Linked DNA regions of Homo sapiens: region 2 is linked to region 1. A link means that fine-mapping ties the variant in region 1 to the expression of a gene that starts in the linked region. Tissue or cell type: lung. Region 1 holds a variant in brackets; the other region holds the start of a gene. All regions are shown on one strand. Distances are between the middles of the regions.

The links. PIP is the estimated chance that this variant, and not a neighbour inherited with it, causes the effect.
Region 2: it holds the start of TOM1L2, and the variant in region 1 is fine-mapped to the expression of TOM1L2 in lung (TOPMed, PIP 0.99).

What each region holds. Positions count from the first base shown.
Region 1 is chr17:17,844,795-17,850,784 of GRCh38, forward strand. It overlaps TOM1L2 (target of myb1 like 2 membrane trafficking protein), which reads right to left. Exons shown (of 15, transcript NM_001082968.2): 14 at 4,029-4,065; 15 at 1-2,989. The coding sequence ends at 2,841. Among named protein-coding and RNA genes, the nearest start is that of SREBF1, 11 kb to the left of the region's middle. RefSeq lists enhancers at 3,752-4,598, 5,100-5,359, 5,181-5,475. The variant G/A (reference allele first, on the strand shown) is at 2,799.
Region 2 is chr17:17,970,083-17,976,072 of GRCh38, forward strand. TOM1L2 (target of myb1 like 2 membrane trafficking protein) reads right to left here and starts at 2,318. Exons shown (of 15, transcript NM_001082968.2): 1 at 2,180-2,318. The coding sequence starts at 2,231. It overlaps DRC3 (dynein regulatory complex subunit 3), which reads left to right and starts at 2,780. Exons shown (of 14, transcript NM_031294.4): 1 at 2,780-2,892; 2 at 3,770-3,880. RefSeq lists enhancers at 1,811-2,380, 2,752-3,071 and a silencer at 2,022-2,071.

The DNA.
Region 1 (5,990 bases):
ACGCAGAAAGGGTTAAACACATTCCCAAGAAAATATTTTGACAAAATAAATATTTTAACCTATAATCAGGTATAATTAGTGCTTATAAGGAATCCCAGCAATAATTTAGTGTAATTAAGTATATACTGTATCTGTGATTTCTAACACTCACGGAGAGGCTGGTGGGCCTTGAGAGTCCAGGTTTCCTGACAGAGCCGCACCCCCTTCCTGGACCAGGCAGCCTAAGGACTGTGCTCCCCAGATGGTGGGGTCTGGGAGCAGAGATCTCAGGACAGGCCATCTCGCCAGGGCTAAGTGGAACCCACTCTGGGGCACCGGGGCTATACTTGCTTCCTGTGCAGGCCTCAAGCAAGAGCCCCCTCTGCCTACAGGTGGGGCAGGCTACCTCCGGATAGGAGGTGCAAGCAGGCCACCTGAGGGGTGGCTCCAGGCTAGGAAGGCAGGTGACACTTGTCAGCATGGCCAATGGCCTCCTGCCAGCCCATACAGGTCCACCACTCCCTGCTGCCCCTGGGGCAGCCAGGCCTCTCCAATGATGCCTGGCAACCAGCTGGCGCTGGCGCTGGAGCTGGAGCGGGGCAGTTCTGGGAGTGGGTATGAAAAACAGTTTTGCTGGGGGCTCCCCAGGAGGGCGCCTATTTCAGCTTCACGCACTATGGAATCCCTGCTCCTTTCAGAGCCTCCAGGCTCCTGACTTTTTGGGACTCCTGGTTCCATGAGGCAGGGAGGCTGGCTCTTCCCTCTGAGGACACTGGGTCTGGGATGCAGTGCTGAGGCTGCGGAGCACTGACTGCCCGAGGTCGGACCGCCCACCACCCGCAGGCCCAGCTCTGGCAGGGCCTCAGAGACAACCCAAGTCACAACCCAAAGGCAGCCAAAGGGCTGGGGCCTCTGGGTGCACCTGGGCCATCCCAGCCACCTTTTCTGCAGCTCAAGTGAAGCCAGCTAACTTCAGCAGTCTTCACATTCAAGCTGGCCTCAGGGGGGTCTGTCTTTGAGAAACATTGAGGAGGCAGGGGCTCATCAAGCATCAGGGAGCAGAAGGCCCAGGCAGGTGTGGCATGTGCTGCCAGAGAGGACAGGGCTAGAATCAGGCTGGCCACTCCACGGAGGAGCTTCCTGGGTGAACCTGAGCAACTGGAGTGAGACATCCCAGCTAGTCCCACCCTCAGCCAGACAGAGGTTTCCTCTCTGGAGGGAGCTGGAGGGCTGCTAGCCTGGCACAGGGTCCTGGGTCGGGCAGCACTTGCTCTTCACTGGAATAGTTCCTGTTGGTGCTCAGCATGACCCCCAGCTGAAGTCGCCATCCTGAATGCTCCCCAACGACCATGTCGCTGGTCTCTTCTCCCGTCAAGCCCAGCCCCCTTTCCCTGCTTGGCTGGTGGTCTGGGCCGTCCTGCCAGGTGGGAAGGGCTAACTACACCATGGATCAGGAACCTGTGCTGACCTAGGCAGTGCATGCTGGAGGGGACAGGAGCAGACTGACCCAGCGAGCTGGGCCCAAGACACACGGGGATGCATACAGCTGCAGTATTCTCCTTCTGAGCAACAGCAGCCTGGTGGGAGGTGTGGGGCCAGGTGTCTGGCTGGACCAGGGCCTGGGATGACCCGAGTCCCTTGCCCATGGCCAGGAGACACACCAGTGAGGACACGGGATGGGAATACATGTTACCAGCCCCTAGCTGCTCTGCCTGCCTTCAGGATCAGCTTGGGGAGAGAGTATAAATTGGTGGCCAGAGGACCTCTGAGGTGGGAGGAGGCCAGACTGTCAGGAGAGTCTGTGCAAGGAGGCCAAGGCCTATGCCAGGGAGCAGAGCAGGGGCCTTAGTGCTGCCCAGGCCTCTCAGTCACTGGGAACCTCCAAGGATGCCACAAAGCTGTTTGCTGCTGGCTCTTGAGGCAGATGTGTGAGGCTACGGCAGGCCAGGCCACAGCACTGAGTGTGGCCCATGTGCACATCTGTGACACTTCCCCAGGCAAGCCAGAGCAATACCTCCAGTGCAAGTCCCTCCACAAGCCAGGACCAGGTGTGCGGGTGTGAGCCTGCAGTGTGTGCGTGGCAGTTTGGTTTATTGGTAGTGTCGTCTCAGCAGCGTGCCACATGGCCACCATCTGCGGGCTGCCTGCTGCCCTCCCAATTGTCCTTGGCCCTCTCCCTGCCCAGGGAGCCTGCAGGGACCCTCGGTGCCAGGCTCGGCTGCTGAGCCAGCTTGGGTGTGAAGCCTGGGCTGGCAGCTGAATGATGGAGAGAGGGTCAAGAAGGTGAGAGACCCCCACCATGGAGACCCAGCAGAGCCTTCTCAAATGCTGATAAGCCAAATGTCACAAGGTGACAAGTCCAAGGAGTGAGACCAGGCCCATGAGTGCAGCACACCCTGCTCTTCCAGAGATGCCACAAAGCCCCTTCAGGGAGAGAGGGGCCCAGGAGGGCAGAATGCCTGAGAAGGTCGCTGAGCCAGGCAGAGGTGAGCACAGGGCGGGGCCGGGCGTGCTCTTTCTCCATGGGCGGGTGGAGGAAAGACAGTCCGGGTGGTCTGCTCAGGAAGCACTGCCTGGGGCTGGGCCACTCTGCCCGCTCTTCCTGGGAGGAAACATGGGCAGAGGGGCCCATGGTGGGAGGGGAGAGAGTCTCTGGCTGCAGTTGTCCCACCACTCAGAGAAAAGAAGTGGCTGAAGCTGGTCCTGACTAGTGGGAGGCCTGGGAGCAGACACGGTGGCATTTCCATGGAAACACAGGTGTGCAGGCCGTGTGGAGCTGGGGATGTAGGAGTGGCCAGTGCCCGGTGTCCACGGGGTGC[G/A]AGCGGGGACCCGCCATCTGGGGAGGCAAACCACAGAGCTGCTCACAGGGCGAAGAGGGCATCCTCTGACCGCTCTGGCTTCTTCCGGCCAGAAGGGTTTGAGGCTGGGGCAGGAGCCTCCATGGGGGGCGAGGGGAGGTCGGGAACCATTTCAGCAGCTTTGGCTCTTTCTTCAAGGAATTTATCAAACTCTGCAATACAAACCAAGGCAAGGGTCAGGGTTGGTGAGGGCAGGCCACCAGAGGAAGCGCACCCTTCCACTCCCCAGCCCGTTTCCTCCTCTAGGGCAGGCATGAAGCCCACCTAGGAGCAGGTGGGTAGGGAGGGGTTCGTGAGCTGCAGTGTGGGGGGAGGCTCCTGGCTGTGCCCAGTCCTCCTGCCCTGGAGGGAAAGGCTCTGGAAAACACAGCCCAGAGTGCTCACCCTACCGCTGACCATTTTCCAGATCAGCACTGGGTTTTGTCCATTTTCCAGATCAGCACTGGGGGTGGGGCAGGGTAAGCTGGAGGGGCCAGCTTCTGATTAAACAGGCAGGAACCATCCCACCTACCCCACCCTTGCCCACCAATGGAGGACTGAGGAGATGCTGAGGAATGCAGTGGGGAGGGGGGAGTGCCCCATTTCTATGGGCACTGAGAGCTAGGGAGCAGGGTCCTCTGAAGTTTCCCTCCCTGCGGAGCGGTCTGGCCACAGGGTCTGGCAGACCTGGGGAGAGGAGGACAGGAGCACGGAGAGGCAGATGGAGTGGGGCAAGATGAGCTTGGGGAGGCAGGATGTGAAGGGCAGGGGATGTGGGGGTGGCCATGTGGGAGAACTAAGACCCCGCTGCTCCCATCCAGCCCATCAGCTGAGGCCCAGGAGAGGCTCCTCCCTTCTGGCTCAGTGGCCCAAGGGTGCTGCTGCGCACCTCCACAAACTGCGTGTCTGAGCTGGGCTGAGCACCTGTGGGTCAGGACCAGGTGGCAATCTGCACCCGCTATTCACCAGCTCTGCAACTTTGTGGAATTGACATGTTCTTTCTGACCTGTTTCCCAATAAGCGAGATAAATCACACTTCCCAAATCAGCGTAAGACCTGGGTGGGACAAAGCCACCCGTGAAGCCCATGGCTCAGGGCCTGGCACCAGTAGGTGCTCTGGCAGCGGGGGCTCCAAGATGATGGGGGCTGGCTCCTGTGCAGCCTGCACAGAGGCAACAAAAGGGGGCTGTAAGGCCACTGGCCAGGCCATACCTTCACTTGTGACACCCTCCTCCAGATCATCACCCTTCTGTGGGAGGAGCAGAGAAAATGAAATTAGGGCACTGGTCCAAGCACTGCCCGCCCAGCCACCTCTGTCTGCCCATGGCCACCCTAGGACAGCACTGCCCAGGGTAGCCTGAACAAAACTTCCTAATTTTCCCTGTTTCCAGATTTCTGTAATAGTAAAATACTGCTCTTCTTATTGGAGAAACAGAAGCTTTGTTTTTAAAAAACAAAAGCAAAAAATTCAAACATGTTTTAGGTTTTGATCCTCCAGAAAGGCTGGAAAGAAAACTCCAAAAACGGTGCAGGCTGGTTCTCCAGCCTGGGCTGCAGAGGGCGGGACCCCACCTTTGGCACTCTTGAGGCTCTAGGGAGAGGCACAGAGCAGTAGCCACAGGGGGCTGAGCCTGAGCACACACAGGGTCACGTGTGCCCAACACAACACCCACTCACTGCCAGCCACAGGGTTTCTGGGAAGACGCTGTTGACACCAATAGCTGGAAACCGCATGAGGCCTTGATGGCTCAGGGCCACAAAGCCCACAGCACAGGGCCTGTCACTCAGTAGGTACTTTGGGAGTGGAGGCTGTGCCTCCAGAAGCCATGTCCTGCAGCCTCCTGGGAGCTGCACCAGCCTCCTCCCGTGGCCCAGATTATATTATCTGCTGCTGGCTCCTCAAGGAGCCATGGAGGCTCTGTGCACTCAAAAATTAAAGTGCATCAGACTTGATTTTGTTTGGAGAACATGGTAGTGTCTTGAGCTCATGGGGTTCCCTGGGGACTGGGGAAGAGCAGCATGTGCAGGGCCTCATTGGGAAGGGGCAGGATGGGGAAGTGACAAAGCCCTGGGCTGGGCTAGGAGACCTGGGTTCCTTCCTGACTCTACCACTGACCTGCTATGTAGCCTTACTGGACACATCCCCTCCCTGTCTGGACCCTGGGGTCCCCCTTAGAAGTTAAGGACCTTGGTCCTTCCTGCCTTGCTTCTGTGAGAGAAGCAATTTCTTTTCGAGACAGCCCCTTGGGAAAGATGTCCCGGGGTGTGTTCTTCCTCCCTGACACCCAGGCAGCTGCCTTCTTTGGCAAGGCATGTGTTTGGAAAGCTGACCTTCTGGGGAGGAGGCCCAGAGCAGCCAGAGGCCCCAACCTGAGGCCTGCTGTCCTGGTGTGGGAGGTAGCCAGGTCACCAGCCCACAGACAGCCAGGCTGACCCTGTGGTTAAAGAACTCAACAGGCTCTTCTGCCTGGGGACAAGGCCCCCTACAGAGGAGGCACCTAGGAGGGAGATGAGGTGTCTCCAGCTCTGGGGGAGAATCCAACTACCCCATGACTCTGGGCAAGCCACTTCCCAGAGTGCACTTCTTCATCCGCCACCCTGGCCCCCTACTGGGCTGCTGAGAGTGAAAGTGCTTTGTAAAGAACAGAGGGAGGGGCCAGCAGTTATCACATGCAGCCACTGCAGCTCTCCTTTCTTGGGACCTGTTGCCATTTTCAGATGCATAGTATCCTCATCTTCTAGCCCTATCTCTGAGGATGGAGACAATGGGTCTTTGGGGCAGGGGTTCTTTTACATCAAAAATCAGGAAGGGAGGAGGGGGATGACAGCCAATTAAAAACAAAAGCACTGTGTGTATACTTCACAATTAAAAAAAAAAGAAATGAAAACAAAACAAAACAAAACAAAAAACATGCTCCCCCAACACTCCCTCCCCCAAAAAACCAAAGCACGGCACATACATCTGAAATGGAAAAGATACTGGGGGGAAGGCAAGTGTGTGTTTTGGAGCCAGCTACGGCTAGGACTGTGTGGGTGAAGGAGGCTGTGCCCAAGGCCTTGCCCCCAGCACAGTTGGCCTCCGCAGGCCGGGAGGCCACTGCAGCACCCACAGCTATGGGCTGATGTCGGGGAGGAGGGGCAGCTATGGAGCTTGCCCAGACCTCCCTTCTCCAC
Region 2 (5,990 bases), 130 kb after region 1:
CTCACTCTGTCGCCCAGGCTGGAGTGCAGTGGCACAATCTCAGCTCACTGCAAACTCCGCCTCCCGGGTTCAAGCAATTCTCCTGCCTCAGCCTCCCGAGTAGCTGGGACTACAGGCGCATGCCACCACGCCTGGCTAATTTTCTTTTTTTTTTTGGATTTTTAGTAGAGACGGGGTTTCACCGTGTTAGCCAAGATGGTCTCGATCTCCTGACCTTGTGATCCGCCCGCCTCAACCTCCCAAAGTGCTGAGATTACAGGCGTGAGCCACCGCACCCAACCACATTTGTATTTTAAATCCCCTTTAACTTCTACCCCTCATTTACTACCTTGTCATTTTAAAGGTGTAGAGCTTCCTATTATAAAGGGGACAGAAAGGAAAACAATTCTCGCAAGTTTTCTGGCTCCCTCCATTAACTGGCTGGAAATTAGTTTTTGGAGTGTGGCTGCCATGCAAGAGCACCTGAAGAGAGTGGAAAAGGACATGGGGAAGAAGTAAGGAAGTGAGAATCCAGAGACTCTCCAGTGGGCAGCAAGAGACAAGATGTCAAAAAGGTGGGAAAACACTCTTTTGGGGTCCCTCATGCATTATAAAAGATACTACGCCAGAAAGTAAAGAAAGGCTCCTAAATGCTAATTAGCCAACAGGAGAGACCTCAATAAGTTTATAGGCTCCACTAAAGGCTGGAAAGTAAGCTAAAATTTCATAAGCAAAGCAGAAAATAAACAAATCACTACTGCTGAAATCAGGCCCATAAGAACACCAAAGATCCTGGCTCATAAAAGACGTTTTACCAGTCCTTCAACCAACCAGGAGGAATCCAGTTTTCAAACAAACTAATCAGCATTCTTGACTGATCAAGTGGCATAAGCCACTGCCTTGGGTAAAAAGGCAAGTTGCTTTCTTAGTAAGGAAGTCCCATATGGTGGCCATTTCAGTATTCCTTTACCTACACTTTGGGCTTTCCTTATCCATGATTCTGGCCATCTCTGGTGTCCCCAGGTGTCCACATCCCCCCTATAGGATTAACAGATAATGCTGAGTACCATTCTCTCTACATTGCCAACAAAAGATTTCAGCTTTGGTAAACTTAATATGAGGTGGGGGAGGAAGCAACAGTCAATGTGCAGAGTACTACAAAGAATATCAAAACTTGAGAACTTTAAGGGATCTATCACATCTCATCTCCAAACACTTTGACAGACAGGGGAACTTCAAACCAGAAAGGGCACAAGGTCATATGGAGTCACTGACAAAACCACTGCTAGAGTCCAGGCTTCCATGATTCCCAGTCCAGGGCTCTTATCATTAAATAACACAGCCTCCCTTCTTTCCTGGGAGGCACTGCAGGCATGCCATCCCCCTGCCAAGATAATCACCCTCCAAGAGCCCCTCCTCCTATCCCAGTCCCTCCTACAGCACAGCTGAGTTGCAGCTCAAATTAGCAAGTCCCGGAGCAGGGGGCATTTCTGGGAGGGTGCCCAGTCTGAGGGTTGCTGGTACCGAAGAGGAGGGACAAAGATGGAGAAGAAGGTGACATCCCACAAAGGGTTTGGGAGAACTGGGTCCTTGGGGCAGTGGCAGTGAGCCTGCTGGGCTGGATAAAGACACATGCAGTGGCATCTCCCAAAGCGCATTGGGGAAGCAGACCAGCAGTTGGCACCACCTCTAGCAGCAAAAGGAAGGGCTGAGCCTTGATGGGCAGGGAAGCCTGGGGCATCTCCGAGTCCAAGTTGGGCCTCAGGGGTGCCTCCTGGCAGAGTGGCACTGGCGCGCCCGTGAGGTGGCACCAGTGCCCGGGAGGAGGCCCGAGGACACAGATGCCCTGCCTGCCCGTGGGATAGCACCGGCACCCGGCGAAGGCCCAGCCCCCCCGGGAGGTGGCACCGGCGCCCGGCGAACGCCCGACGACCAGGATGCCCAACCCGCCCGTGAGGTGGCACCGACGCCCAGTGAAGGCCAGACGACCAGGATGCCCAGCCCGCCCGTGAGGTGGCACAAGCGCCCGGCAAAGGCCCGACGACCAGGATGCCCAGCCCGCTCGTGGAGTGGCACCCGCGGCTGGCGGAGGCCCAGCCCGCTCGTGAAGTGGCACCGGCGCCCGGCGGAGGCCCGCGGTCCTCACCAGCCGGATCAGCGGCCGCCGTTGCCCAGCCTCCTGCCCCACACGCGGCCTTACCGAGGCACTGCCCCACTGGTGTGCTGAACGGGTTCCCCAGGAGGAACTCCATCTTGGGTGGACAACACGCAGCGGCCCGGGCCCCCTGTCTGCCACCTAGGCCTCCGCTGTAACCCGCCGGACTCCCGTCCTGACTGACACTTGCCCCCTCCCCACTCTCTGGAACGCCGAGCTTAGGGCCTTTGGCCCCGCCCCCTTGCCGCGTCTCTATTGGGGGACACCTACGAAGCCCGCCTCCTATTGGTCGTTACACCTCTGTCAGCAAAGCCCCCACCCACCCCGCAGCGTCCGATTGGGCGGAGGAGCGAGCTAGGTCACCGGAGTCCCTGTCAGCCGTGGCGGCACCTCCCCTGGCCCGCCCCCAAAGGGGAAGCTGCGCATTTTGATTCCTCTGTATATTGGTCAATCTAAAGGATTCTTACTATTATTGGACAAAAGACGAGTCAATCACGCAAATGGACGGAACAGAGGTGAATCTAGGAATATCCCCGCCCATAGAAAGTACTGATTGGAGAAACATTTGTTTTCTCTACGGCTGGTTGGTGTAAGGAGTGTTTCACCACACGGAGATGTGGTCACGTGACTTGTCAACTTTCACCCAGGATGTCTCCCTTCTGACTTCCCCTTAGCAACCAAGTCGCGGCGCTTGGTTCCCCAGCAACCGGGAGACGCGTCTGCTGCGTGGAACCGCCGAGTTCCCAGCGCTTGAGAAGGTGAGACCTGGGAGCTGAGGCTCCCGGAGGACTTGCAGGGACAGATAGTGCCCGACGTAACTCTTTCCTGTGACCTTTTTCTCGGAGAACGCCGGCCCGGCCCTTCTCATTTATAAAATGAGCACGTAGGTCCTCTCCCAGCCACTTTACAGTCGTGTGAGACAGCCAAGACACTTTAGTCCTGGGCTTGTCAAGCTTTTGAATAAAAAAAAAAAAAAATACTAAGGAAGCATTTCCCGAGGGAGCAGGGCCAGAATGGATTTTTAAGGGGTTCCGTCTTCCAGCCTCCTTTCATAGAAAGAGAGGTACCCGGTCCACTGATAACTTTTCCCAGAATTTAGCCATCATAACTGACCTCATAACTATCAAATGATTTCATCTTGGTACTGTATATACCGCTTTGGATGTGAATACGGCTACTCAAGTTCTGTATCCGTCTCTGTCAGTAACTCATTGTACGACTTTGGACAAGTTCCTTTACCTCCCTGGAGCCTCAGGTTCCCTAGCTGGGAAATAAGGGCATTAGGACTCCCTTTTTATGGCCTCCGGAGCTTACATGTACTTAAATAATGCATGTGCACTGAGCACACAGTAAGCATTCAGTAAGTGATTGATTTTATTCTTTTTTAAGAAAAATTTTGTTCATTATTTATTTATTTATTTATTTTTTATTTTTAAAAATGGAGACAGGGTCTTCCTATGTTGCCCGGGCTGGTCTTGAACTCCTGAACTCAAGCAGTCCTTCCACCTCGGCCTCCCAAAGAGCTGGGATTACAGGTGTAAGCCATCTCGCCCAACCAATTTTCTCCTTATTAATTCATGGCCAATAGGGACTATAGTTTTCAGATCCTGTTGACTTCAGGTTATCATTTCCCAGGAAAATTCTGGATCTGTTATCTGTGAGGAGGCCACTCCGTTGACAGTTGTGTAAAACTCTGCTGCTTTCCCCAGCTCCAACCTCTCTGGTCTTCAACAACACTATCATCAGGCAAGTCAAAGGGGACCCAGGTTGGGTGGTAAACTATAAGATCCCCATAGAAGAGGACTGTTTGGGCCTTGGCCCTGAACCCAGGACAACTGTGAGAAACACTGTGAGCTGTGGCAATGATAGTCCCCAGTACCCTGGATACAGTTGAGTCATGATTAGGAAAATGAACTCTGCCACGTGCTAAGTGTATGAAGTTGGGCATGTTAATTAACCTTTTTAACTAGCTTCTGTTTTCTTATCTGGATATTGGTGAGTATTAGCCCTACATGTAAATTAAGTTTCTAGAAATTTCTCCCATCTACATCTTGCTAACACCCTGGTCATCTCTCACCTCAGTACTTTTGCAATTCTCAGTACTGTTGCTAGAGTGAGCTTCTTAAAAACTAAGATCTGATCACATTGCTTCCCTTATTTTTTTTATTTTTTGAGATGGAGTTTCGCTCTTGTTGCCCAGGCTGGAGTGCAATGGCACGATCTCGGCTCACCGCAACCTCCGCCTCCCGGTTTCAAGCGATTCTCCTGCCTCAGCCTCCAGGGTAGCTGGGACTACAGGCATGCACCACCATGCCCAGCTAATGTTGCTGCCCTTATTAAGCCCTAGGTGCTTTCCAGGGATTCTAGGATAATAACAAAACTCCCACAGACCTCTCCAAACTTGCATCACTTCAGCCAAAGTGCAACAAGTCTGTTCTCTCCCACCTAAAGGGCCTTTCCACAAAGTTACCTCCTCCTTCTTTCCTGCTTGTCCTTCCAATCAGCCCTGTCTTCCTTGGCCAGGCCAGGTGCCCCTAATGTACAATTTCATAGTTCCCTACACCTACAAATTGTCATGGTTTGTAGTTAAATATTTGTATTATTGTTTGATTCATGCCTGAAGCTGGGTTAAAGTCCGTCTGTTTTATTCACAGCATATAGCAGTTACTCACTACCCATGTGTGGACTAAATACGTGATCTCACACAAATGCAGAAGGGAGAAATTATCCACCTTTTACAGATGGGAAAGCCAAGGCTTAGATAGGTGAAGTGAGTTGCCAAAAGATGCACAGTCAGGATCCAAATCCTGCTCTGATGTGCTTAACAAATAGCATATGTAATAACAATCCCCCATTTCCTAGCATAGCAATTGCTGGGCTTGACTGAAAGCAAACTTGATCTGTCACAGGTACCAGGCCCTGATGAAGTAGGAGGGATAAGTCAGTTAAAGTTTTGAAATCAAAATTAAGAGTCATTTCCCAAAGTATAGCACCTTTTTTTTTTTTTTTTTCTTGATGGAGTCTCGCTCTATCACCAGGCTAGAGTGCAGTGGTGCACGATCTCGGCTCACTGCAACCTCCAACTCCCTGGTTCAAGCGATTCTCCTGCCTCAGCCTGTCAAGTAGCTGGGATTACAGACATGCGCCACCATGCCCAGCTAATTTTTGTATTTTTAATAAAGTCAGGGTTTCACCATGTTGGCCAGGATGGTCTTGATCTCCTGACCTTGTGATCCGCCCACCTCGGCCTCCCAAAGTGCTGGGATTACAAGTGTGAGCCACCGCGCCTGACCTCCCCACCCCCCCCCCAAAAAAAAGGCCAAACACTTTGCAGAAAACATCAGCCAAATATAACACATTAAAATTCCCCCAAAGACAAGTTGATGACAAGTTATGGGAAACCGCAGGGGAAGCCATTGCATAAGAGTGGGGAGCTAGAGAGAGGCCGAGGTCTGGAACTGTCTTTGGGGGTAGAATCAGTCACCCCAACGAGGTGGAGCCAGTGTGAACAGATTGGAGAGAGTGGGAGGAAAAGGACCAAGGTCTTGGGAGGACGGAAGGCACAGGTGGAGAAGGGGTAGGGGTTGAAGGGTGTGGAGGCTATGCCTCCCCTGGAAGCAAGAGAGAAGTGTGCACAAGAGCTCATTGGGACATTTGATGAGGGACAGTTCAGGGCAGAGGATGCATATTTGCAGAAGCTGCATCCAAGTGGATGGTCAGGGAGGCAAGAGGAGGGCAGTCTTAGAGGGAAGTCTCTAAGACCAGGTAACAGGATTGTATGGCCCAACCTGGCTTTTCAGCAGACACCATCAGCCCTGCACCAGGAGTTTCTCCAGCAGTGCCCAGTGGAATGAAA